2 separate regions of the Homo sapiens genome follow, and region 1 is linked to region 2. The links come from fine-mapping of genetic effects on gene expression. A gene starts in region 2. The other region holds a variant in brackets. All regions are shown on one strand. Distances are from middle to middle. Region 1 overlaps LOC107986837. Region 2 holds the start of SMIM30 (small integral membrane protein 30).

Region 1 (12,777 bases), 26 kb after region 2:
AGGAGAATCTGGGTGAAAATTTTTGGCCATATTTTCAGGATTACAGGAAGGGAAGGAAGTTAAAATACAAGATATATATATCATCTCCAACCTGGAAGAACTCCGTGTTGGCTAAGGCCTTACAAATAGCTTTTTCCTACTGAGATACATCCTGGCAATAGATTAGGCCACATGTGGAGTTCTACGAAGTGGTTGTTTAAGAAAGGTACTGGGATAGCAGGTGTACTTGGAATGATAAGGCAGGAGTGGAAATGATTAACTGTTGTGAAATAATGCATTTTATTTGTCAAGCACTATGTGAAGTGCTTTATGCACATTTTGTCTAATTCTTAAAATGACTTTTTATGTTAGGCATTATTGTCCTTATTTTATAAACTATGTCTCAGGAAGGTAAAGAATTTGCCTTTGATTACTGGGTTGGTTATTAAACTAACATCTCTCAGCTTCAAACCCAACTGTCTACATTTTGCTTTTTGATACATGGGCTGTGGGCATCTGCAAACCATGTTTCTGCTTTTTTGATTGGTTAAACCCTGTCAGTTGGGGATACTACAGGAAATTGTAAGCAGGAGGAGGTAGATGGAACATGTTCTTTCTTTTTTGCTGTTGTTTTTGTTTTTCTTCCTATTTGCTTTCTGCTGGCTTTCTTTTCCCATGAGCATCACCCAGCAATGCCTCTTCAGTCTTGCAGCAGCAGTTTGTTCCAATAGCAGCAGAGGAGTCCAGTTTGTGGTTTCCCTGACACTCACAGAGTCAGCATCAGTCGCTGGCTCCCCTTCTTCAGAGATCTGGGACCCAGAACCATGGGATGCCTCCTCCCGCTAAGCTCAGGGACTCAGCACCATCAGATTCTCCTCAGGAGTCTGTGAGGCCTGTGCTCCAGGCTTCTAACTGTTAATAATTCTAATATCTTCATTTTGTTCCTCGAATTCTAGGAATGGTTGCTACCTCTATGATACCTTAGAGTTCTCTTTTTGCCATTTCAGTACTTAATTAACAACTTTTATAAAATTAACAATTCTTTATTTTATTTTATTTTATTTTATTTTATTTTATTTTATTTTGAGACAGATTCTCACTCTGTCGCCAGGCTGGAGTGCAGTGGCACGATCTTGGCTTACTGCAAGCTCCACCTCGTGGGTTCAAGGGATTCTCCTGCTTCAGCCTCCCGAAGAACTGGGATTACAAGCACATGCCATCACGCCCAGCTAATTTTTTGTATTTTTAGTAGAGGCGGGGTTTCACCATGTTGTCCAGGATGGTCTCCGTCTCCTGACCTCGTGATCTGCCCGCCTCGGCCTCCGAAAGTGTTGGGATTACAGGCGTGAGCCACTGCACCCGGCCAAAATTAACAATTCTTTATATTAATTTCTTTCTGTTTAACCTGTATGATTTCTGGCTCTTGGCTGGATCCCAAAACAATTAAATAACTATTACTACTGCTCATCATCATCATCATGGCCTCCATTTATTATTTAGCAATGCTTTTAAGGTGGTAGAACTAAGTTCCTCATAGTGGGTGTGGGCAGAATGCACATCCGCTATATTCTTTTCTTGCTACCCAACTGGCTACCTTTGGGATGGAGCAGAATTTTTCAAGGGCACAGGCCATTTGATCTTGCTAGCGCTGGTAGTGTCTATTAGCCCTGATGTGATGTTTTGTAATCTATATATTCAGTGCTAATTAAGCCTCAAAGCAATTCCAGCAAAGCTCTTTATAAGAACCAGGGCTATGTTTATTTTTCCCCATCGACTCTGCAGAGCCAAGAACAGTGTCTAGCAGTGCTTGGTAGGTGTTTAGTATGCATTTGTTGAACAAAAGATTGCATGAATGCATGAGCAAGGCTTAGGAATATTAGAATCTTATCCTCTCCAGTGAATGGATTCTGGAAACTGACTTCTTGGATATCTGGCCTTCTTCCTGATTTGTACTTACGTTGCCATCTGGGACTCAAGCCTTGAACTGAAACCCAGTATGTTCAACAGAGGCCTGACAGCCATTCTATTCAACAGAACTTCTCAACCCCACACTTCTTGTCCCTTTCACTATCTATGCCCTTTGAGTTGTTGGCTTGAGATGTGCTTCCAATCAGATGGACCCTCCTTGAACCATAACATTACTGTGGTTTCTGCCTGCTGCTGAGCTCTACTCTATAGGTCTTTATGGAAGTAACCCCACTCTGAGCACTGGGGAAGGCCTCTTTCCCATTGGGATTTGTACAGCAGCTAACTTCTCCTGCTCTGTACTTTCAGCTGGTTGAGCTACCTCTGTGTCTGCCCCAACCCTAATTCCCTGAATCCCACCCAGGATGCTGGCCCATGCTCTTCTCTCTGCCAGTGTTTGAAGTTCCTGCATGTCTCATGGTTAAGACTGCACAGTTTGGTGTGTTTATAATTCAGGTATTTTTCACTGGTGCTCATTATATGCAGCATAAGTCAAACAAACAGAATTTCTTCTCCACCTGACCTCAGAGATGAAATAAAAACTATCTTTGTGTTTAAATAAACGTTTCCTGGCCACCTTTATGCATAGACAAACTTTCCTTGGGATACTGAAAGAAGAGTATAAGAATATACATACCTATATTTGTAATTCAACATGATTTAACATTATTTTCCCCAGCTGAAGTTATACATGATTTTGTGTAAGATTTAAAATTAATCTCATGTTCAGTTTCAACTTGTTATTGTGTCTACTTTTTTTTTTAACTTGCATAGAAGAACAATTCCATGGATCATATCACCTGATTGACATCTTTCTGGTTTTGCTCTCTCTGTCTAAAATATCAGAGAACAGTAGAAATTTCTGCATGACTCAGAATGTTGAAAAGCCTTATATGATAGTAACATAGCATAAGAGCATATCCTGTGATGATTTTTCTTTTAATAATAGAGTTCTGGTTGTCAGGTTATACTAGGAAGCTTTTCAAGATGGGATGCCTTTGAAGTAACCACACAGTTCCTTCTCTCCTTTTTCTTCTATGATTACTATTTCTTTAAAATGAATAAGTAGGCAATTGATTTTATGCCCAGAACCCAACAATGAGACCCCCACAGAACAGGGATAATTGGAACACAGATATGTGAGCAGATGGGGAAAAATATCAGCAGGAAGGAAATGACCCAATGAAGTCTCAATGAGTAGAATATGGTTTACTGGAAAGTGTATAGCAGGTAGTAGGGACCCAGCAGTAGGTCTGGAGTACAGACATTACTCCCTCAGAAAACTGGGAAAGGCAGGCAGAGGTTTAGGTAAGGTAGATGAAGAGACCAATGTCCTGGAACAACAGTTTGAGATCAGGAACTCAACAGCTGAAGTTCACATAGGCTGACTGAGTTTTAGGACATTGAGCTATGGCCTAAGGCTCTGTGATCTTTTCACTAGTAACTGAGGCAAGCAATAATGAACAATAATTTAGGAGTGAAGTTGGACATAGTGAGTCTTGTCTGGTTCTCCTATGTGTATAATTTAGAAATCAGAACATTGCTATTAAACAAGAGTTAGAAACAGTTTAGGACAAAGGACTTAGACAGCAATATTCTTCCCCAGACAATACCCGCTCCACTTTTCTTCTTATTGTTGTTTTGTGATTAGTTGGAATTAGTTGGAAGGGACCTGGAAAGTCATTATAACACATTTGTAAATATCAGGTTTGGTGTGGAGTAGTATTTGACTTCTGAGGTATGGATGATGATTTGTGACCAATTAAATATCTAAACTTTCTATACTTTAGACGTTGTCAACTAGCTGTAATTTTGCCCTCCCCTTCCCTCAACCCAGGACATCTGGCAATGCCTGGAGACATTTTCGTTTGTCATGACAGGGGAAGGGGGAATGGGAGTTACTGTTACTTCATCTAGTGCAAGGGTCCCCAACTCCCAGGCCGTGGACTGGTACTGGTCTATGGCCTGTTAGGAACTGGGCCATACAGCAGGAGGTAAGCGACTGGAGAGTGAGCACTACTGCCTGAACTCCACCTCCTGCAGATCAGCAGCGACTGATTATGTACCCTATTGTGAACTGTGCATGTGAGGGATCTAGGTTGCATGCTCCTTATGAGAATCTAACTAATGTCTCATCTGAGATGAAACAGTTTCATTCTGAAACCACCCCCCACCCCTGTCCTTGGAAAAATTGTCTTCCACAAAACTGATCCTTGGTGCCAAAATGGTTGGGGACCCCGACAACTTAGGTATGTAGAGGCCGATGACGCTGCTAAATATTCTACAGTGCATAGAAGTCCTCCACATCAAAAAATTATCCAGCCCAAATGCCAATGGTTCTGAGGTTGAGAAGCCCTGCTATAAACCAAACAGACTGTCATTCATTTTGTTTTTTTTTAATCCTGGTATTCTTTGTCACTGTGGATATGTTTCTTGGGCAATTGTTATACCCCATAAATAGTCTAAACTTGTTCTGAATATAACAGAATCATCTTTCGGCACCAGTTGTCTACTCAGTCTCCACAGGTTAGCATTCTCTGACTATGGCATGTGTGTTTGGGTGCATGCAGTTCATAGTAGCAGAATAGAATGAAACTGTAGACATTCACAGACCATCTAAAAGGATTAATACATGACCTTTCCTTTCAGGGTTTTTACCATCTGAGCTACTAAATAAAATAGGTGCTTTACCCAGAGATGCAAGCTTGAAACTACAATGTGACCTAATATGTTGTTTTTAATGCAGATTAGTTTCTTCAATGCCAAGGCAACAAAAACCTGGAGTGAAATCCTATTACTCTTGCAAGCTGATGTGCATATTCTCTTCTCATACACAAACAGCTTGGAGACTTGGACCTAATTTTATGGCATCTGTGTATGCTAGGGCCACTAATAACATAGACACTGACTGGCAAGAGTTGAATGAACTTTGTTAATCTGTTAACCAGCTGGGTTCACTTAGGCCTAGTTGACTTTTTTAGAGGAATTATTCTGTAATTGGAAATTTCTATGCCCCTTACATTTTAGATGATTGAGGGACTTGGTAGGTTTATTCTGCCTTTTGATCTTTAGGTGCTTTTTATGTATCTATTATATAGAATCACAGACTTGAAAAAGACTTGAGTGAGGTCAGCAAGCTACTGCATGCAGCCAAATCTGTCTTGCCACCTGCCTGTTTTTGTAAAATAATATTTTATTAGAACACAGAAATGCTCATTCATTTACGTATTATCTGTGGGTGCTTTTACATTAAAGTGGCAGAATTGAGTAGTTGGAACAGAGATTATATGTCATGCAAAGCCTAAAATACTTATTATCTCTCCTTGAGCAGAAAAAGTTC[G/A]TTGACCCCCACCTAATCCCACTTCCTCATTTTGCAGATGAGGAAACTGACTCTTAGAGGGACTGACTAGACCAAGGTCACACCACTAACAGAAAATCGAGGTTAAAGCATGATTAACACATGTTTTGAGAAATGAGGATGATGAATATCAGACCACTGACAAGCTATGTTCTAACAGCAAAATGAAGAGAAAAAAATATATTCTATAACTTGATTTACCAAAGACGAAAAAACAAAACAAAACTGGCTTGATGGATTTACTTCTTCCCTGAATAGATCAGTTGTCTTTATGTCATGCAGATAGAGCCGAAGCAGGACTTCAGTCAAATGACATCACAATTTTATGCAGCTAGGTGGCTGTTTTCCAAAGAATAGCAGAATATTTGTTGGTCAGCCTCCTGTGTCTCAGCATTATATTCCTCAAAAGTTGAATTATTGATGGTAAGTCAGAGAAGACACTTTGGTAATTGCTGAAATCTTGACTGTATTAAGACTGACTGTCCCTGTGTTCTGCTGTGGCACCAGCTGACAGTGATGAAATCTATAGAAGTAGGGCACATTTCCATAACATGAATATTCAGGGTTGGTGATGCAAGAATTATTATTAAACCACTGGGAAGGAACACATTCTCATTATTTGATTGAATACTAAATGCTGCCTTTTAAAAATAATTCAGTATGAATACTTTGATAATGAGGAAAGAGAGATGCTTGGAAAAAAAACTCATACTTTTTTTTTCTCTGGTACGTAAGAAGGAAATTAAATTAAGTTTAAAATATATAGCATGTCTACAGGAACTATTTTGGAACCATTAGCTATATTTCATCTAAACCTGTCTTACATATATCGAAGTATAATGTAATAGAAGCCTGAATAGAGTCTGATGTAAATGATTTATATAAAAATAAATTATGTAAAGAAGTATAAATAAAGACCCCTGAAAATAAATAAAATGCCTATTACAAATAATAACTTGAAAAAAACTTTAAAAAACCCAATATTTGTTAGACGTTAGATGTGTTTGCTACAGTTCTGAGTTGGATGTGTATGCTGCATTTCTGTAAATGACACAGTTTATATATTTCAAGGACCCCTGGCACCTCTAAGAACCCTGGGTATTCCTCAAAACTGAGTGTACTTCATATATGATGACAGTTCAGACAGCTGAAGTGCCATCATATATGAAGTACATCCAGTTCCTCATAGCCAAGATGTTATGCATAGGAAATAGAAAAGAAAGGAAAATGATTTGATTCATTCATCCATCAAACATGAATCAAGCCTCTGCTACATGCCAGACAGTGCACAAGGCTCTGGTCCTGCACAAATTAAATAAACAAGGTCCTTGTCCTCTAAAAACTGATGATCTAAAGGAGGGTGCAGGCAAGTAAACAGATTTTCAACAGAAAATGGTATGTATTCTGTAATAGAGGTAAGCTCAGATGCCATTGTGGAAAATTTCTCTTCCTTTTTGCTGGTTTCTCATCGTTCCTTCTAGCTCTTCTCCCCTAATCAGTTTAGGTGGGGTTGTCCCTTAGGCCCAGATTGGGTTTGTACCCTTTTGTTTCTCTTTCTACCTCCTCCTTCCTTGAGTGTGCTAACTCCACCCTTGATTTACTAACTGGGTTGTGCTTCCTTGTCTGCCCTCCTAAAGATGGCCATCCCTTGTTAGTGCCTTGAGTTTTCACTTCCTCCTTCTCCTCATTCTCTTCTCTCTTACAAAAATGAAGCCACTGAATGCCCAGTTACTGAGGTTCATGCTTTCACTAGTAAACCAAATACATATTGTGTTAATGCATCTACTAGGTGTTCCTATTTGTTATCACAACTATGCATAGGCATCTATGTAGCAATTTTACTTTAAATGAAAAGTCTTGCATACTACAAATCTTTTATTTGAAAAGGTAGAGGGGTACAAGGCTGAAATTTCAGACATTGTCCCTGGAAGCTCCCTCTGGTTGCACTATTTAGGTAAAAAACAAATGAACAAGAGACTAGGTGAGGCAAAGTCAGTGAGAGACTGGAACAGAAGTCACAGACAATTCTTTTTAGCACAACAGCCACTCATCCCATATTTATTCTTCCCATATTTCTTAAAAGGACATCTGCTCTGTGTGGCGCATGGCAGTGGGATGTATTGGGAAGAATCTGGATTTTGGAATCATACTGTGTTCAAATCAGAGACTCAGCTGTTGCAAAAATAAAAATGCATGTGCAAACACGTAACACACTGCTTGGCTTCAGATCTGTGATCAATACATGTGTTTCTTCATTATTTTCTTTCTTTCCTTCACTAAGAGAGATAATAAACAGTAATCATTTACACATATCTGAGAAAAGAAGCTTTGGAGAGAGAGCAACGAGTGTTTCTGGAACTGACCTCCACACAGAGTAAATTCAGAAATCAGCAGATCTACATTATTTATTCAAAGAGAGAACTGCATTGTAATCACTTTCCTGGATGCATGGGGTGAATGAGTGACAGCAAATACCTCAGTCATTGTGAGATGGCAACCTGAAGTAGGTGCATCTGAGAAAAAGGGCAGAGACCTCCCCAAAGGTCAAACAGAAGCAAGGCAGCAGGCAGCATTGCAGGGGAGGCAACTGCTGGGAAAGACACAGCAAGGAAGAGCTATTATGGGATGCCTCTCTGTGAGGTAGGGAGTGACTGTATATATGTTTTGAGACATCAGATCCTCCTCACCAAAGAGCCACTCTGGAAATTCTTGTTTTGACTTCATCCTTTAAGATTTTAAAAAGCAGTACCCTGAAGCTGTTTTCTTTGTTTTACTTTGCTTTAATGACTTAACAGCATTACAACATGGGTTTAAGTGCAAGAGAGTTTAGAAAACCTTTAGAAAAATAAGTCAAGCAAAGTTCAAAAGAAAACATGAATCTTATGCTAATTTTACCTGTAGGACTCAGGGCAGAAGTGGCCAAGCTTTTTGGCAGAAGGCACTGTTGAAAGGTATTGTGTGGTTGTGGCGGAGACAGTGGGAGGATGAAGTGAATCAGAAACTGTTGTTCTGTCTGGGATGAGGGGAAAATATCTGAAACTACTCCTTCATTGAGCAGAGGGCCAAGGATAGAACCCCAAAGAACCAAACTAAACTCAATCATAGCAAAACATCCTCTTTCTTTTTGTTTCTGCTGCTACACAGAAGAGATGAGGTGGGGATGGTCCATGAAGATGAATGACTGCTTCCTAAGACACTGTGGCGAGGAGGCTGTGGAAAGATGGCAGCAGCAGACTGTGGAGAGAAGTCAATTCACTGTGAGTGGTCAGACAATACCTGAACCAAGAAGACACATGGGACAACCTCTTGGGAACAGAAAGTTCAGAAAAGGGCTAAGAAATAGGATGGAGATAGGGATACTCAATGATCTAGTCATAAGGGATCAAAATGGGAATGCAATTAGGAAGTAGAAGGCCTGAGATAGACAGCAGCCACTGGGATTGGAAGCAATTTTAGGATGATTTCCCAAAGGGTAGAGATGTTCCAACAATAGCTTGATGATAAATTTTGTATTTTTTCAGGGCAGCTTGGCACTTCCCCAGGTAATCCATTCTCAGAGTTTCTGTTCAATCAAAAACTGTAGCTTCTTTGGTTTAGGAGTTTCCTGAGCCTGTCTCAGGGCAATAACGCCTTCTGGGTTAACTGGAGACTTCGTCAGAGACAGATGGGAGCTAACTCCAAAGAGTCATCATGATAACTGCGGTTGTTCAGATTCTTTATTTCTGGGCATCACATAGAATTTAGATTGGGACTCCTTTTCTATCTAACTGAGGGATGGGAATCATAATTGCATATTTAATTTTGTCATTAGAAATGATAATAAACTCATTGCCATTATACCACATGGTTTAAAAATAATCTGTTAGAGCATTTGTTTCTTGTTGTTCAATGTAACCAACCTTATTAAAGACCTTGTATCAACAGTGTTGTTTTGTTTTGTGGCATAATTAAAATCATATTTCTGACTTGTGTAACGTATAAACACATGCAAAGTTGTCATATTTTTTTATGAATACAGTGATAGAATATATGGGACTTTTGATAACTTACTGGTTTTTAAATGACAGAATTCATTTTTTTTTTGCATCCTGAATCAGAGTTGTGATTTGCTAAGTCTGGTATTAAAAAATAACTCATTTATCCAGAGCTGGAAGAGGTCAGTGAGACAGATAAGAACATTTCCTCAGTTTACATTCCAGGAGTGTGTCTACGTGCAAAGCCTATAGAGTTGGAGGAAGCATGGGGAAGCCCAGTAAGGAGAAGATAGACTAGGAGAGGGATGAAATGGGCTGCTGTCAAAGACCAAATGCATCTGTGACTTGTATTACTGAGGAAATGCAGTATTTCAGAACTCTTTTTAAGGAGAGGACTATCTGGATCCACCAGGGCTACCTTCTTCCTAAAGATCTGCTGTGTCCTGCTGCTGGGTGAATTGCCTTCTAGTGAATTGCCCACTCAGGTAGAGTTCAATACTCTACGAAGAAGAGTTGTCTTAATAGAAAGAATGACTGTTTGGAATGACTTTGAGTCTCATTGGAGAGTGAGATCATGTGCCATGCCCTTCAGCACATTCTTGCCAATTGGCAGTGGATGAAAATTGGACCAATCCTCTGACTGGTCCTTGAAATTTCACAGGACAGGCTCAGCGTCCCAGATGAATAGGATTATTGGCATCAGTGACTTCATTTTTACTTCTTATATTAGTTTACCAGGACTGCCATAACAAAATATTGTGACTGGGTGGCTCAATCAAGAAAAATTTATTTTCTCACAGTTCTGGAGGCTGGATGTCATCCAAGTTCAAGGTACCTGCAGGTTTGGTTTCTAGTGAGGCTTCTCTCCTTGGTCTGCAGATGGCTGCCTTCTTGCTATGTCCTCACACAGCCTTTTCTCTGTGTGCCAGCATCCCTGTGTCCCTTCCTTTTCTTTTAAGGAAACCAGTCCTCTTGGATTAGGGCCCTACCTGATGACCTTATTTATCCTTAATTACCTCTTTAAAGGCTTCATCTCTAAATACAGTTTCATTGGGAGTTAGGGCTTCAACATATAACTTTTGGAGGACACAATTCGGTCCAAAAAACTTCTCATACAGCTTCTGTTGGTAGGGAACATCAGTAGAAATGTAGCATGAGCAAAAAATAAACCTGATATTTTTGAGGCACTGAGATTTTAGGTTTGCTTGTTAATGTAGCACAACCCCGTCTACTCAGATTAATAATCATGGCTTGTATTTACTCTGAGTTGAACAGCAACATGTGGTCTTGTTTAACAAGACAGGTCTTTTGGTAGGTCCTGCACTCCTATGCACCTACATATAATCAGGTATACCACATCCCCTCAGAAAGGATGCTTGAGAATCCTTTCAGGTGAGAGGTGCCAAGTGAAATTGCATCAATGTTTAACTGTTATTTATTGAGAACCCATTGTGTCAGACTCTAGAGATACAGTGGTAAATAAGACAAAATCTCCACCGCATTCCTCATAGCTCAAAGGAAGAGAGATATTAAACAAATAAACATGCAGATTAGTGTTTACTTAATACAATTTAGGTAAGTGCTGACAAAATAGTATATTTTATTTTTTCTTGTCAATTTTAGCTTCAAAGAGGACTGTTTTCTCATAAATGAAGCCTGGTATATCTAGAAATTAGGTGCCAATACTCCATGGGCACAGGCAGAGACTGAAAGAGTAGTGTCCTAGGCAGGATGGCTGAAATTGTGTCAGCTCTTTGCAGTCTGGTTTGGGAGTAATCAGCATGTAGATGATAACTGAAGTTATAGGGATGGTTGAGATCACCCATGTTGGGTGAAAATAAGGTAGGGTGTGAAAAAAGGGAGACCACAGTATGAGCCTGAGAACATCAACATTTAAAGAACAGGTAGAGAATGAGTTTCATTCAAAGTGAGTGGAAACAGAGCCCCTTGGGAGTTAAGAAGAAAGTAAAAAAAAGTAGTACTACAGAAGCCAAGTGAAGATATCATTTTCAGGAGTAGGAGAGAGTGGACAAACCTGTCAAGGATTAAGCAACAGAACAAAAATGCACACATGGGATTTAACAAGGAAGGGGTTATTGATGACTTTAATGAAAGTGGTGAAGGTAGAAACAGACCCAGTGAGTTGAGGCATGAATGGGAGTTGAAGAAATACCTGTGGGGATGTCTACAGCTCTTCTAAAATATGTGGTTGTAGTTATTTTAAGAGTATAATTGGATTTTTTTTTTAACACAAAGAGGATAAATGCTTGAGGGGATGAATACTGCATTTACCCTGATGTGATTATTACCCCTTGTATGCCTGTATCAAAATATCTTACATACCTTATAAATATATACACCTACTATATACCCACAACAATTTAAAAATATTTTTTAATGTGTCTGTAGAGGAGAGGAGTAAAGCAGAGTCAGTTGGGAAGAAATGAAAATGAGAAAATTAAGGGTGAGTTTTTACATTTTAAGATAGGAGAAACAAATATGAATTCTGATGAGAAGGTGCAAGAGAACAGGAGTTGAAGATGAGGGAAAGAGGAGATAATTCATAGAAGTGGGTCCTGAGATAATAGGAACAGAGGAGGAAAAGGGAGTTTAGTCAGGAAGGACTTCTATTCTATTGTTGGAGTAGGGAAGGCTGAGCTGATGGCTGGGGAGGAAAATTTATAGATCTGTAGTGGGAAAGTGAAGACATTTACATCTGATGGTGTGGTGATCTTTGATGCTATTTACTAGCTCCTTCTGGTTTTTTCTTCAGGGCATTTTGGGATTGCACTTCCCTTCCTTCATGGAGTGGCTATGAGACTTACTTTGGTCATTCAAATGTGGGCAACATCTTCTAGGTTGAAGCCTTTAGAGCCACTGGGTGATTTGCCACACTCTCCTTTTTCCTTTGCTAAAATGATTAACAGTGTTCCAAATGGTGACTTCTTGATTAGCCAGGATCTTGAGTGCAAACAGTGCAGAGCAGACCCAGCTGATCCACAATGGACATGTAGCACGAGTGGAAAATAAACCTTGATTTTGTTTTTGAGCCACTGAGATTTTAGCATTGCTTGTTAATGCAGCATAACCTAGTCTATTCTAACCATAACTGTGGCTTGTGTTTTCTCTGACAAGTCAGAAAGGAAATCCTAAGCTGAACTCTAGAGTGAAATTATTATTTATTTTAAAGACAATCTAGCTTATCAATCACACTCACCAATTTTACACAATTGGTTGAAAACAGAAAAAAATGACTGACATGTTCATTTATGTCAGGATTTTAGTTTTTTTCCACGTATAAGCAGTAATGAATAACAGTAAAGAATACCTTTCTTAAAATATGCAGAATAGACACGCTGTGTTGAGCAGTTTTTAAAAAGTAAAGGATAAGCACATCATTGACAAAGAAAACCTTTCTTTCTAAAAATCAACTTTAAAATATTCCCTTTTTAACTTGCCATAGAATAAAAAGATAAGAGCATAAAATGGAGAAATACATAA
Region 2 (12,777 bases):
TCATTTGCCTGATAGTTGATAAATATTTTTATTTCTAAAGAGTACTGGTTATTTCTCAAAAACTGTTGAGTAAACAAGTTAAAGTTAAGCACATGCCATCTCAGGGGCTATAAAACTGTTTCATGTTGGTATTGAAATGCCCTGGTAATTTTTGTGGCAGAATGAAAGGGTTGTTGTGACAAATAATCTGAAATAGAAAATGGTATAGTTTCTGCTCTTGGTGCTCATGCCTGCTTCTAAATTCTTTTGTTAAGTGATTTACGCACATTTAAACAGAGCATAATTATCTTGATTAATATTGAGAAATACAGTATTTATAATCCCTGTGTTTAACAAAGTGCTACATGATTAGCCCTTTAAAAATAATTAACCCTCTTGTATATAAAATTTCATAATTTCATTTCATATTATGAAGTGCCAACTAATATTTTCAAAATTTTAATCACCCACATAAAATGGATCCAGTGGAAATATGTGAGAAGAGTACTTTAGCTCTGATACTTATAAATCAATGAGAAATTAAACGACATTATCTTTTTTTTGCAGCAATCATATATTTTTCTGGTCTTCTGCATTTTGCATTTAGATGTTAGATGTATATTAGTCAGTTATAGAAAGTATTTAGAAAAATGAAGTTACTGAAAATTAGAAAAAAAATAAACATGCTATTCTGCAAATTTATTTATTGATTTGGCCCCATTTTCACCTATGAGTGAAAATCATGTCTGGGATTAGTAAATCAAGATAAGGGCTTCCTCTCTACTCCCCACCATAGGAAACAAACATTAAACACATTATATGTAGTTTATAATTTCATGACTTCTAATGAGATGAGATTTGTAAGTATTTTTCTTGGTGGAATATGGACCAGATCTGCTATTTTCCTGAACAGGAAAAACCAAATTCCTTGCCTCTCCTTAAATGACCTGGGCAGTTGCTGCTAACCTTCTGTTATGCTACCTAGGAAGGAACCCATGGTTAACGTATTAAGAATCATTAAAAAATAATCAATTATTTTCTTTCCTTTTTTTCCCCTTCGAAAGCATGAGGTACAAACCAGAAGATTTAAAAAAATTTTAGGGTAGTCGAATTTTCTTTTCTTCACAGGTGTCTTTGAGCTTTATCAGTTTGTAAGCTAGAATTGTGTGTGTTGGGAAGGACTATAATAAGAAAAAACAAAGACTGAGTATCATCTTCAAGGGCCTGTTAGGACTTGGGAAAATGTCAAAATTAAAATTAAAGTTTGATATAGGATTTGTTCATATAACTTTTAAGATATCCTCTTTAAAAATTCAAAATTGATGCTTGTAAAGTTTCTTCCCCCTTCTCTTTAGGAAATATCTCTAAATACTCCTAAAAATAATAACATACAGCAAGCCAACCCTTCCACATACACTACCTTAGATATTTCTCATCTACCTAGGAGGTGGAGTGGAGAAATACTATTATTACATCCAATTAACAGACAGGAGATAGCAATTTAAGAGAAAATAAGTGACTTGCCCATTATGACATTTTAATTCTTGGAGAGACGTCTGTTAAATTCCACAGCTTGGACCCTTAGCCTCTATTATAGTACCACTGAAGAGACTGTTATGAGAGTCGCTGGCTGGGAGATGGGTCATATGCAGAAAATTCTCCTCCATTCATTATGTGCTGCAGGCTATATAGCTGCATTACCATTCCTATATCCAAGGTTGGAAATGGCATTTGATAAGCTGGTACAGAGCTAGAAAGCCCAGCAGGACACAGGTGCATGTGAGGTGTAGCTTCTGAGATTTCCTGGACCTGGCTAGTTGGCACAATTGGTATCACATCAGTTTTTCAAGAAGCTCCCACTTGCAGTCTCAATGCTGAGACAAAATATGAATACAGCCCATTTTCTCAAACTTCATCTACGTCCCTGCATTTCTTGATGGTTAGTCTCACTCCCTAGTTGAGACTGTTGGGTTAAGGTAGGAATAAACAATATGCTGGATGGGTGAAGAGGGGAAGGTGGATGTGGGAGATGACGGGACAAAAGTCTGTGAGTAAAATACCTTGAAGTAATCACTTTCCTGGTGTTTTATCTCTCCATCTCTGGAGTAGCTCAGAAAATTCCCTCTTTAAATATGCACCAAGACTTATACTTCTAGAAAGATGGAGTAGACATCTTTTTTCCTTTTCCTCCCACTAAATATAGCTAAAAACCCTGGACATTATGTATAAAACAAACATAGGATTCTGAAAGGCAGAAAGAAGGCACAACAGCTGGGTACCTCAAGAGCAAAGGAACAACAAAGTGGTGAGTTAGCTGGTTTTTTTTTTTTTTCTTCCTGTTTCAGATTGAGAACTGGAGAAGTTGGTAGCACAGAAAGGCCAACGGGCTTAGACCGAAAAAAAAAAAGGGTGGGGGGGTGGGAAACCAAACAAGACTATTCTCTCTAGTATTTAAAGGTATAGGAAAGGTGTAGCTTAGTGAAACAGAAAACTTTTAGAATTGTAGCCCCACTTCCACCATCAGCAAAGGTTGAGTGGAGTGCCAAGACCTCCACTTTCACCAGGCTGTAGATGTTCCAGGCTCCCCACTGAGGTATCACAGAAGGCTGGGTGGGGAGCTGGCACTTTCATCCTCACCAGTTGATAGTAAGAACCTCCCTCTTCTACGCTGGTACCCATGAAGACCATGTGGGTAGCCTGGACTCCACTCCCACCTGGTGGTAACAAGGCAACCTATCACCAGTGTCAGTGGAGGGTATAGGAGGAGCAGTCATGAGGCTTCCACCTGCATCTGGCAGGAAGGAGGAGGCATCCTCCCTTTCTACGAAGGAGTGGTGTCAGAGGAATGTTAAAATACAAAATTTAAATAAGAGCCACAGCCTTTTAAATATAATACCCAGAATGTCCAAATGTCAATAGAAAAATCATCATCATACTAAGAACTGGGAAGATCTCAACTTGAATGAGAAGACAATCAACAGATGCTAAACACCGAGGTGACAGAGATGTTAGGATTATTAAGGATTTAAGCAGCCATGAAAAGGTGCTTCAGTGACAATCACAAACATGCTTGAGACAAATGAAAAAACAGGTCTCCACAAAGAAACACAAGACACAAAGAACAAAATGGAAAGTTTTGAACAAAAAATACAACAGCAGAAACGGTGAACTTAAGCATACAATACTAGAAATTACCCAATCTGAATAAGAGAAAAAAAGGACTGAAAAAATAAATAGAGCCTTAGGTATGCATCAGACTATAACAAAAATATCTAATATTGGGTCCCTGGAGTCCTAGAAGAAAAGGAGAATGAAAGTGGAGCGAAATTTTTGTAAAAAGAAAGAATGGCTGAAAATTTCCTGAATTTGGGAAAAAAGAATAAAACTGTAAGTCTCAGATACCGAGTGAACCCCAAACAGGATAAACCCAAAGATATATCCATGCCGAGATATATCACAAACTTCTAAAAATTAATGACAAAGAAGAGTTATGAAAGCAGTTAAGAGAGAAATGATGCAGGAAATGTACTGATTTTTAGCATTAGAGAACTAAGCTGGTTACATTAAAACTACAGAGAACAGAAATATAAGTATTTGCAAGGACCTTAAATTCTTCACTTGATCTCAACTATTTTTAACTCAACTCAGTGAGCTAACATGCACAAGGCATTTACTAGATATCTACAAATTGTGCTGGGCATCAGAATATTTGCTAATGCCATTCTTGCTGTAACTGCTCCACAGCAGGTGTTATCCCTCATAGAAAATCAAGGAATTTTAGAATTGGAAAGATCCTGGATGGGCTTCAGCTCTGAAACTAATCTAAAAATGTCAGCATGCATGGGAATTTTCCTAAAGAAAAAGATGATAGCTTTCATCAGATTCTCAAAGGAACTGGTGGCCTAAAAATGTTAAGAGCCACCATAAGGGTTCTGTTCTTTTCAGGCAAAGCCATATAATCCAACCTAAATAGATGAGAAATGAGGCTATTTTTAGAGGAGGTGTTCCCCCATCATATCCATCAAAATTCCTGCATGCCACCTCAAGACAATTCTCTACTTTTAAGGGGAAAATAGGGAAATGGCAGTTTTCTAATTCTTTCTAGGCACTTTTGGAAATACACGTTGACCAAAGAATGTTTGCCTATAGTCTTATTTTGAACATTTTAAAAACAGTACCTGGAGGTGACTAAGTGACTACTGCACTGTGATTTAAAATGTACTTTAGGTTTGATTTCTCCCATCCCAATGGAAAAGTTGACATGCAAGGAAGCCGCAGCAGCCTTTCTACATCAGCACCCAATGGGCTGGAGTATAAGAGATGACAATTGTTCTATAACTTGCATCATTCCTTTTTCCTTCTTTAAAACACACAAAAAAATGCAGGTACAATCAAGCTATATTAATTATGAAATGTTTAACTGCCAATTAATTTGAATAAAGACTGTTAGTGCTTCCTCTAGCAAAAAATCGAAACAGCTGTGACAAAAACAAGTGCATTCAGTTTCCATGTCTTTATTCTGTGATGCTTCTTCACTCCTTGTACACTTTAACCAAAACTTTCATGCAAGCCAAGTCAGCTCACTCTAGAATTACACCATAAACAGGACTTTAGGTTGCTAGTGCCTGTTTTTGGATAAAAAATGAGGCTCCCAATGTCATCTGGAGAGCTACAGATTGGAAAATGCATTTTAGGAAAAAATTTCACTACTTACCTCCAGTGTGACCCTAAAGTTTGATTTCCTTAGACTACTTTATGCTGGCTACAACTTGAGAATCAAATGAATCACTGAGGACCCTTGTTAGACATGGAGTTCCAGGCCCCATCTCACAGCTATACAACCAGGAGAAAGACCAGGGAATCAAAAAGTCTTATCAAGTGCCTGGAATGATTCTTGGGCTCAAGCAAGTTGGCAGTCTTCTTAAATTTGTAATGTGCATACAAATTAACTTGGGCTTTGGAAACGAATGCTGTTCCTGATCCAATTGGTCTGGGTGGGGCCTGAGATTCTGCATTTCTAACAAGCCCCAGGTGATGTTGCTGGCTTGAAGACACTTTAAGTAGCTAGGCCAGAGAGGATATTTCGTTTGGCTGGCGTACAAATCAGTTTAAGCCATTTCATTTTCCTTCTATATTTCTAGATTTTCTATCAGGGGCTTCTCTGACCTTAATGCTGCCCAGTTCTCATTATGTCTCTTCAAGCTACCGCAATCAGTTAACACAAGGCATCCTGCCCTTCTCCACTTAGCTCATATAAAAATCCACAATGGATACAAACAGCCCCAAATAAGAAATGGACACGAAACATTAACTTATAACATAATGGGTTTATATTTAATATAGTACTTCTCATCAGGAGGATGTTACTCAGTTAATATAAAGTTTTTTTTCAAAACATTAAATCTCTTTTCCATGTCAATGTCTATAGTTTTTTTTTAACATTAAATTTTTTTCCGCATTTCAGTATTAGATACACTGAATACATTTTTCTAAATGTTTTTTCCCTAGAGATAAAAGTTTTCCTTTTTGCCTGACTCTCTGATATCTAAATATAATATTAACTTGGGAGACAACAAAACAAAAATCTAATTTAAAAGACTCCTCAACGATTCAGGAGGCAGTGATTATAACCGAACAGTGGTGATTTCCTAAGATTCTGGGCAAGAACTTCCTTCTTCCTATTTCACATGCTTTGAGAGAATTCTAAGATTATGAAATATTACTTATGTAAATTTCAGCCATCTTACTTCTTTGACTACCTAACTAGCAAATTATAGGCTGCATTTTTCTGTGCATTATTTGTTGTAAAGAAAACATTTTTTTTTCAATTTATAAATGTATGTTTGTTGCCATTTCATGGAAACAATGAAAAATGTGAAACTCCCTTATTTACTGATTCTTGGAACCTTTCACACACCAAATCTCAGGTTTAGCCTCTAAAGCGCAAAGGTTTTCAGGGTGAGGTTTGACTCAGTAGGCCTTTCAAAGTCACATCTGTCCATTTCTTTTTCGTGCATATACCCCCAAGCAGGCACAAATGCCTGTAATGCTGAGAACCACACCTAACAAAAGGGCGATTGCATCACCGGCTTCTACTGCTTCCACAACAGGCAGCACCAAAAGCAGTGACATGAGGACTAAGGACAACTGTGTTGAAACTGAGGTCATGATGTTGGAATCTTGAGGGCTGAAGGTTCCTAGAAATTAAACATGGAAACAAAAAGGAACCATTAAAAATTCCTCCCTTTTCAAATGACAAAATGAACACATGACAAATAACAGGCCAGCCAATCTTTTGGATACTTTATGAATCATTTCCAATCCATCTCCTCATCTTATAGGTGGAAAAACAGAGGGACGTTAAAGACAGTAATTTGAGGTTCATCTCCCTATCTCGTGATAACACTCTAAACCCAGGAATTTTCCACGATAATGCCAACACCTCGTGCATCAACCAAACAAAAATTGAACAGGAGTTCATAATTAAGAACAAACAGAAAAAAAGCACGAGCCACTAACTTGGAAACTTAAAATATCCTAGTGGGTAAAAATTGTACATTTTCTTAGGGTCTCTCCCATCCAAGAAATGCAGACAAATTTGGCAAAAGTCACACAACATATAACTCTGCGAAGTTGTGGGGAATTAATAAGACTTACCAAAGAAATGGTATATATAGAATTCTATCTGACTTGAAATTTTCCCTTCCTGGAGCTCCGGATGCTGAGATTAAGAGGTTCCACGTGACACGACCTATTATTAGCATGGGGGGTGGGGAGGGGGCGGAGAGAAGGATTTAAAAATTAATTATTATTACTATTATTATTTTAAAGAGGCAGCTAGAGTCAGTGCAGAGCGTGGAGGCCATATGGACGGTAGGGGGATAGGTAATGAGTTGAGAAAAGTCTGTCCAACAGGGAACTAGACTTAAAAGTTGGTCAGTTCACCCACACAAGAAAAGGTAAAAAGAAACAGAACAGAGATAATTTCATTTCAGGACTTGATATTAAGATTTGAAAAAGAATTCGTACTTTGGCCCGGCAAGGTCCAAATTTGCTCCTGTTTTACAAATACACTGGTGCAACCTAAGTATCCTTTGGAGACGAGTTCGTACATTACCTTCTAGGAAGCAGCCATTACAGGAATGGCGAGGAGGGCGGAGTCTCCAAACTACATTTCCCACAATCCCTGCCGCCGCCGACTCCTATGATGCCCCGGCGCGTTCCCCCTATAAGTAGCAGAGGGCGTGACGGTCACGCTCTAGCGGAGGCGAAGAGTCGCGAACGCGCGGGACTTCCTTTCCCTGCCCAACGTTTTACTATTAAATAGATGGTTTCGTGTGTTTATATAAAAGCTCACTTCAAAATAAAAGAAATGATAGCAAGTGTTTTCTACCCTGTTGAGTCTGTAAGGCGCACATGTAATTTTGTCTTTTTCTTCGACTGAAATGACACAGCGGGGAGAGAGAACCCAAGTACAGCCCTCTGTTCCGGGTGCTTTTAAACCAGTGGCTTCCAACGTTTCTGAAGCAGGAAATCTCTGTCACCATCTTCCTAATGAAACATATGCCATTTATTAATTTTTTAGTCAATGGGGAAAAAGCGCGGTTAATAAGACATATCGTAAAAGGTTAAAAAACATTTGTAGTGCAAAATAAAGTTTAGGAAAAATGGGTTTAGCCCTGTTGCAGAAGATCTCTCAGGATTCAGGTCCTAAAGTGACAATCTATTCAGGAGTGCACTGCGGTGATTCCTTCCCACCTATGTTTTTGTGAAACCTCAGCCCCAAATGTCCCTACATATTTGTGAAAAGATGTAAAAATACTGCTTTTAAATCATAAAACAAGAATTAGTTATTTGTATATGTAAGTCGTAACCTTTCTGAAAGGCGCTCTTTCAATTGTCTGCTAATTGTGAACTCCTTACTGAACCTTTCTAGTCATCTGATCTTCTGAACTCTTTCATATTTACTGATTTGAAAATTTATTTGCTATCCTTACATTATAAATTATTAATGATGAGGGTTGGGTGTGAAGCCACCTGCCTGGTCTGAAAGTCCCCTGGTTCAGTCTGTTAGATAATGCAGGTACGTTCAGTTCAATGCCAATAATTAGCATGTATTCTTGTGTTGTCGGTTACCCTTTTTCTTACACGTTCCTAGTCTCTCTAGCAAAGATTTATATTCTTGGCTCCTAACCGGCACCCAGCAGGTGCTCAGTAATGTTGCCTAATAATAATAATGATTTGACTAGATAAATATGCCAACAAGATCTTATGAGAGACCGAGAGGTGCCAAATAAACCAAACCAAGGTGACTAGAAAATTGGAAATCTGAGAATAACTGCACAATAACGTCAGCATTGTTTCTCTAACCTTGATTATTTTAACAAGGTTTTGTTCATTTCATCCTTTGTTTTGAGCTACTTTCGTGCCTTTGTAATCAATTATATTTGGAATAGGAGTTATATTTTTATAGCTTCCAAAATATTCTCTCATATCCTACTGTGAACATTTTGTTTTTCCCTACATGTTTATTTTTCCTTATGTGTTTATTTTAGTTAGCTGAAGTCAGCAGAGACTACTTTAAAGTTAGTATTGTTACAGACTTGTTTCTAGGCACGTCAACATTAAAGATAATGGTTTGGTTTTAAGTTTAAAGAGTCTGTAAGTGGCAAGAAACTTTCTCTTTAAATTATGATGGTTTTTATTAGTTTGTGAAATATATATTATATTGGGAAATGTCGATCTCGGGGGCGGGGTTCCAGTAATAGCTGATGTAGTTGCAAGGATTAATTTCTGGAGTACCATGAATATGATAATCTCCTTCACTGCTTTGACCTGCTCCTACTGTGTGATTTTTAACATGCCTTCACTCTATCTCAGTGAACTGTTATTTCCTAGCTGTAAACCAGGTTAGATATTTTGGCTAGATTGCTGACCAGGATAATAACTGCCATGTTGTACATGTTTGGTCTCTCTTCTAAAAAAGGCGATGATAGATGAGAAGCTGCTTCTGTGTCCGTCATCTGCCAACTACAAGTTCTGCCTGTGAACATCTCTGGTAGCAATGTGAACCACCAATTTTCTGAAGCAATGCTACACTCCCATTTTTCCCAAGCTGTATGAATGTTTCTACAGGCTTCTATGTAGTTGTTCTTTTGACACTAAGTGTCTAGGGTTATAGAATCCATAATTTAGTCTTTCGATTCAAACAAATCTGCACCTACACCATCCTTTACTGAAATAGAGATCAATGGCACCAATGATACTTAAAGCACTTTACTTTAGTTACTTACCTGAGCAGTGGAGAGCAAAATTTTCCATCAGTTGTTACCCAGAAATGGTTTCAGGAAAAAAAAAAAAAAAAAAAAGGAAGTGGCTTCTGCTCATTTTTCTGTTAGAAGTGAGTCATTGGTAGGCCCTGAAGGAAGGCACCTCTGGGATCCATCAGAGGATGCAGGACAGGCCAATATCAGGATTTTGCAGTGACTGGTGTGTGTCAGGGAATTTATAAAACCCAGACTTCCTCATTAGCAATTGAGCCAAGCCAAGTGAGTCGAAACATTTTACTGGAGCTTCACAATTAAAAAAGACCAACCCAGACCTAGTCAGTATTTCCCATCATTAATAGGACTAATCACTGAGAATGTTAGAACTAACTACTCATTAGGTCAAAAGGATGGGAGAAGCTACACTTTCCAGAGCTGTTCAACTACTGCAGAAAACGTCTCCTGAGGCTAAGTACCTCTTGTACCAGCATTTACAGAAGTGTATGGGAGAGGTGCAAAAGGTCATTTTGGGCAAAGTTCCAGGCACCACCTAGAGCCCATTATGTATGTGGTCCTTACTCCCACTGGTGATCGTCATTTGTCTGTGGGAATCAATCACACACGGAAGCTTGTGGAGGATGGGGAAGTAGAGAAACCCCACTCATAGGCATGACAGATTCCACTTTTATTTATATTGCTGATCTTCTTGGAGTAGGTTAAAAATTACTGGATATGACAAAGTTCTAGTTTTGAAAAGTTGTGACATTATCTATATAGCACTTTATCCGTGGTAATGGACTGATTAAGACAGGGTTTGGAGATCATCAGAGGTTGATTCCAAATTTACCTCTGCCACTTTCTAACTCTGTAAACCTGTGCGAATTATCTAACTTCCTGAAACTTGAGTTTTCTCATCTGTAATAAGGGGATCACCAATCTTCATAGGGTTGTTAATGCAGATTGAATGAGGTGACATGTAAAGTGGCTCAGTGTGGTCAGTGTAAGTGACACTATTATTGGCAACAGACGACCTTTCAGAGATGGAAGTAGCTGATCAAATAATATTTATTAAGTGCTACACAAGGAAATTTAAAATCAGAATTAGCTTACATCATGAGAGATGAACAAACATTTATTATGGAAAAAAAGATTTTCTTAGAAAACATGGTTTCATGCTGCATAGGGTCAGATTGATTGATTGACATTTATATTTAACAAACACTTAAAATAGTGACTAATATGCACCAGTAACTATTCCACACATTAATAAATATAAGCCCCTCTACTCCTTAAAATAATCCTGTGAACTGGATACTATTATTATTCTCTGATGAAGAAATTGAGGCATAGTTAAGTAATTTACACCAGGTCACATAACTAGTGAGTGGTATATATCCAGGAAATATGACAAACTTTATACTTTTAATCATTGTCCACATACTGTTATGTGGAAAATGTCCACAGGATCAAAAACCATTTTAATTTTCTTTTTAATAAGGTGTTCTAATGTCGCTTAGGAAGCCTAATCATGTTGACTACTTGAGGGGTTGCTGGTGTTTGTGTACTTCCCTCTAGGCCCTAGTGTGGTGAATGAGGGGGTGCCAGTATTCACCTAATTTATCAGTGGATTTTGACTGAGATTTAATAAATATGTACAAAAAAGTGTTTTTTTAAAAATTGAAGTATATCTGACCCAGGCGCAAAAGCACACATACTAACGAGCATAGATGTTCCCTGTCAACATAGATTGTGAAATGTTGGAAAATTTCAATTATCATGAAATAACTGAAGTCCATATAATATACAAAATTCAAAAAGAAAGTTAAAGAGACCCTTTGAAAATCTTTGCAAGAAGAAAAGATAACTATTGGGTATTGAGCTTAATACCTGGGTGATGAAAGAATATGTACAACAAACCCCCATGACACGTGTTTACCTATGTAACAAACCTGCACATGTGCCCCCAAAGCTCAAAAGTTAAAAAAAAAAAAAGAAAATCTTTGCTAGGGGTCAAGAGTTTAAACTAGTCCCTGCAAAAATGTAGGGAGGTTACTAACAATTCAGTATGTGCATTTCACAGGGAAATATTAATTCCCCTGTGTAGACCAGGTGCTCATTATGATTAAGAGCTGGTAACCATGGAAACAAACAGCATGAAATTTATAAAATTAAAGACATGCTGGATAGAAAATGCAAATAGCCTAGGACAGTGAATCTTGCCCCAACCAGTCTTAGCTTGATTTCCCTTGAATTGAAAGACTTATGAAATTTCTGTCTGGCCATTTTTTGAGTAAAATCACTCAATTTGAGAAACTGAATTTACACTTTGGATATCTCACTTTGTTCATTTGATAATACCTTTTTGAGTCAATCTAGACATGTTGCAGTGTATATAAGGCTAGAATGTATTGGTTAGCAGTATCTAGGAAGTGGTTACTTTTAAATTGATTCTGGAAGCTTAAATGAGTACTTGAACCTTTTATGTAGACATTTATTGTGAATTTCCAGTTGACATACTGTAAGTGATCAGTCACTTTTAGTTTCTAAATTTCTTTCTTTTGCTAAATCACATAGGTGGTCCAAGTAGAACACTTTATGGTAAAACATCAGTTTCTGTGTCACGGAATGATTTACTTATCTATGAAACGGTGAGTGAGATGGCAATAGTAAAGTTTCTTTACTCTTGCTTGTAATATTTTGATTGTTTATAAATCTATTCCTTGAGACCATTAAGACAACAGACTACTTGTCTGTAAATACTCTAAAGTAATGTTGTTTGAATTAAAAATCTTTATAATTTTTAAAATGACAAAAATCTTACTTTCTGCAAGAATAAGTTTACTCAAGGAGGTTGCCAGATTTTCCATTTTACTTTAAAGATAATTTCTTTATCTTAAAGGTGGAATAGGTTATATTAAAAAGATTGCAACTGGTTCAGTTGAGGAAAAAGTCCGGTACAACACTATAGTTTCATTTGATTTTGATTTGGACTCATTTTAATGCATTTTACGCTCTCGTATCTCAGGAGAGTCAAAATAAGTAATTGACCTCAATCTGACAGCCAGAATGAAGCACTGCTTTTGCGAGCATGCCTATCAACACTCGTGAATGTATTTGTGGTGGCTATATAAGGGAAGGGACATAATCCTTTCATCTGCCCTGCTTCAGTAACTCCTTAATAGAATACCGTACGTATCTTTGGTGACCAGACATTAAAAGGGACCTACACAGACAGTAGAGGATCCAGGGAAGAGTGACAGAGTTTATTCAAGTTATCCAAAATTGGTCCTGGAAGAGTGTTCTCAAAGTGTGTTCTGTGTTTCACTTGCATCCCAATTATATGGGGAATTTATTTTAAAATGCAAAACTTTAAAATAAGTTCTCCTGGTAGTTCTTAGGTTCATTTGGTCTTAGAGCCTTTGCCATTTTATGGAGGCTGATTATTTGGGAAGTGGTGACATAGGGGCAACTGAATGACATTAACCTGACGTTAAGTTAATGATGCATTTAACAAGACCCAGTTAGAATTATT

Evidence for each region. PIP is the estimated chance that this variant, and not a neighbour inherited with it, causes the effect.
Region 1: its variant is fine-mapped to the expression of SMIM30 in whole blood (TOPMed, PIP above 0.99). The same link has a PIP of 0.9 or more in monocytes.

The regions. Positions count from the first base shown.
Region 1 is chr7:113,137,217-113,149,993 of GRCh38, forward strand. It overlaps LOC107986837, which reads left to right. Exons shown (of 4, transcript XM_047421162.1): 3 at 8,447-8,559; 4 at 8,824-9,225. The coding sequence ends at 8,910. Among named protein-coding and RNA genes, the nearest start is that of SMIM30, 25 kb to the left of the region's middle. The variant G/A (reference allele first, on the strand shown) is at 5,285.
Region 2 is chr7:113,111,432-113,124,208 of GRCh38, forward strand. It overlaps SMIM30 (small integral membrane protein 30), which reads right to left and starts at 7,123. Exons shown (of 3, transcript NM_001352688.2): 1 at 7,097-7,123; 2 at 6,637-6,730; 3 at 5,287-6,176. The coding sequence starts at 6,147. The coding sequence ends at 5,968. All of the region lies in intron 2 of LOC107986837, which reads left to right. RefSeq lists enhancers at 6,894-7,488, 7,383-7,522.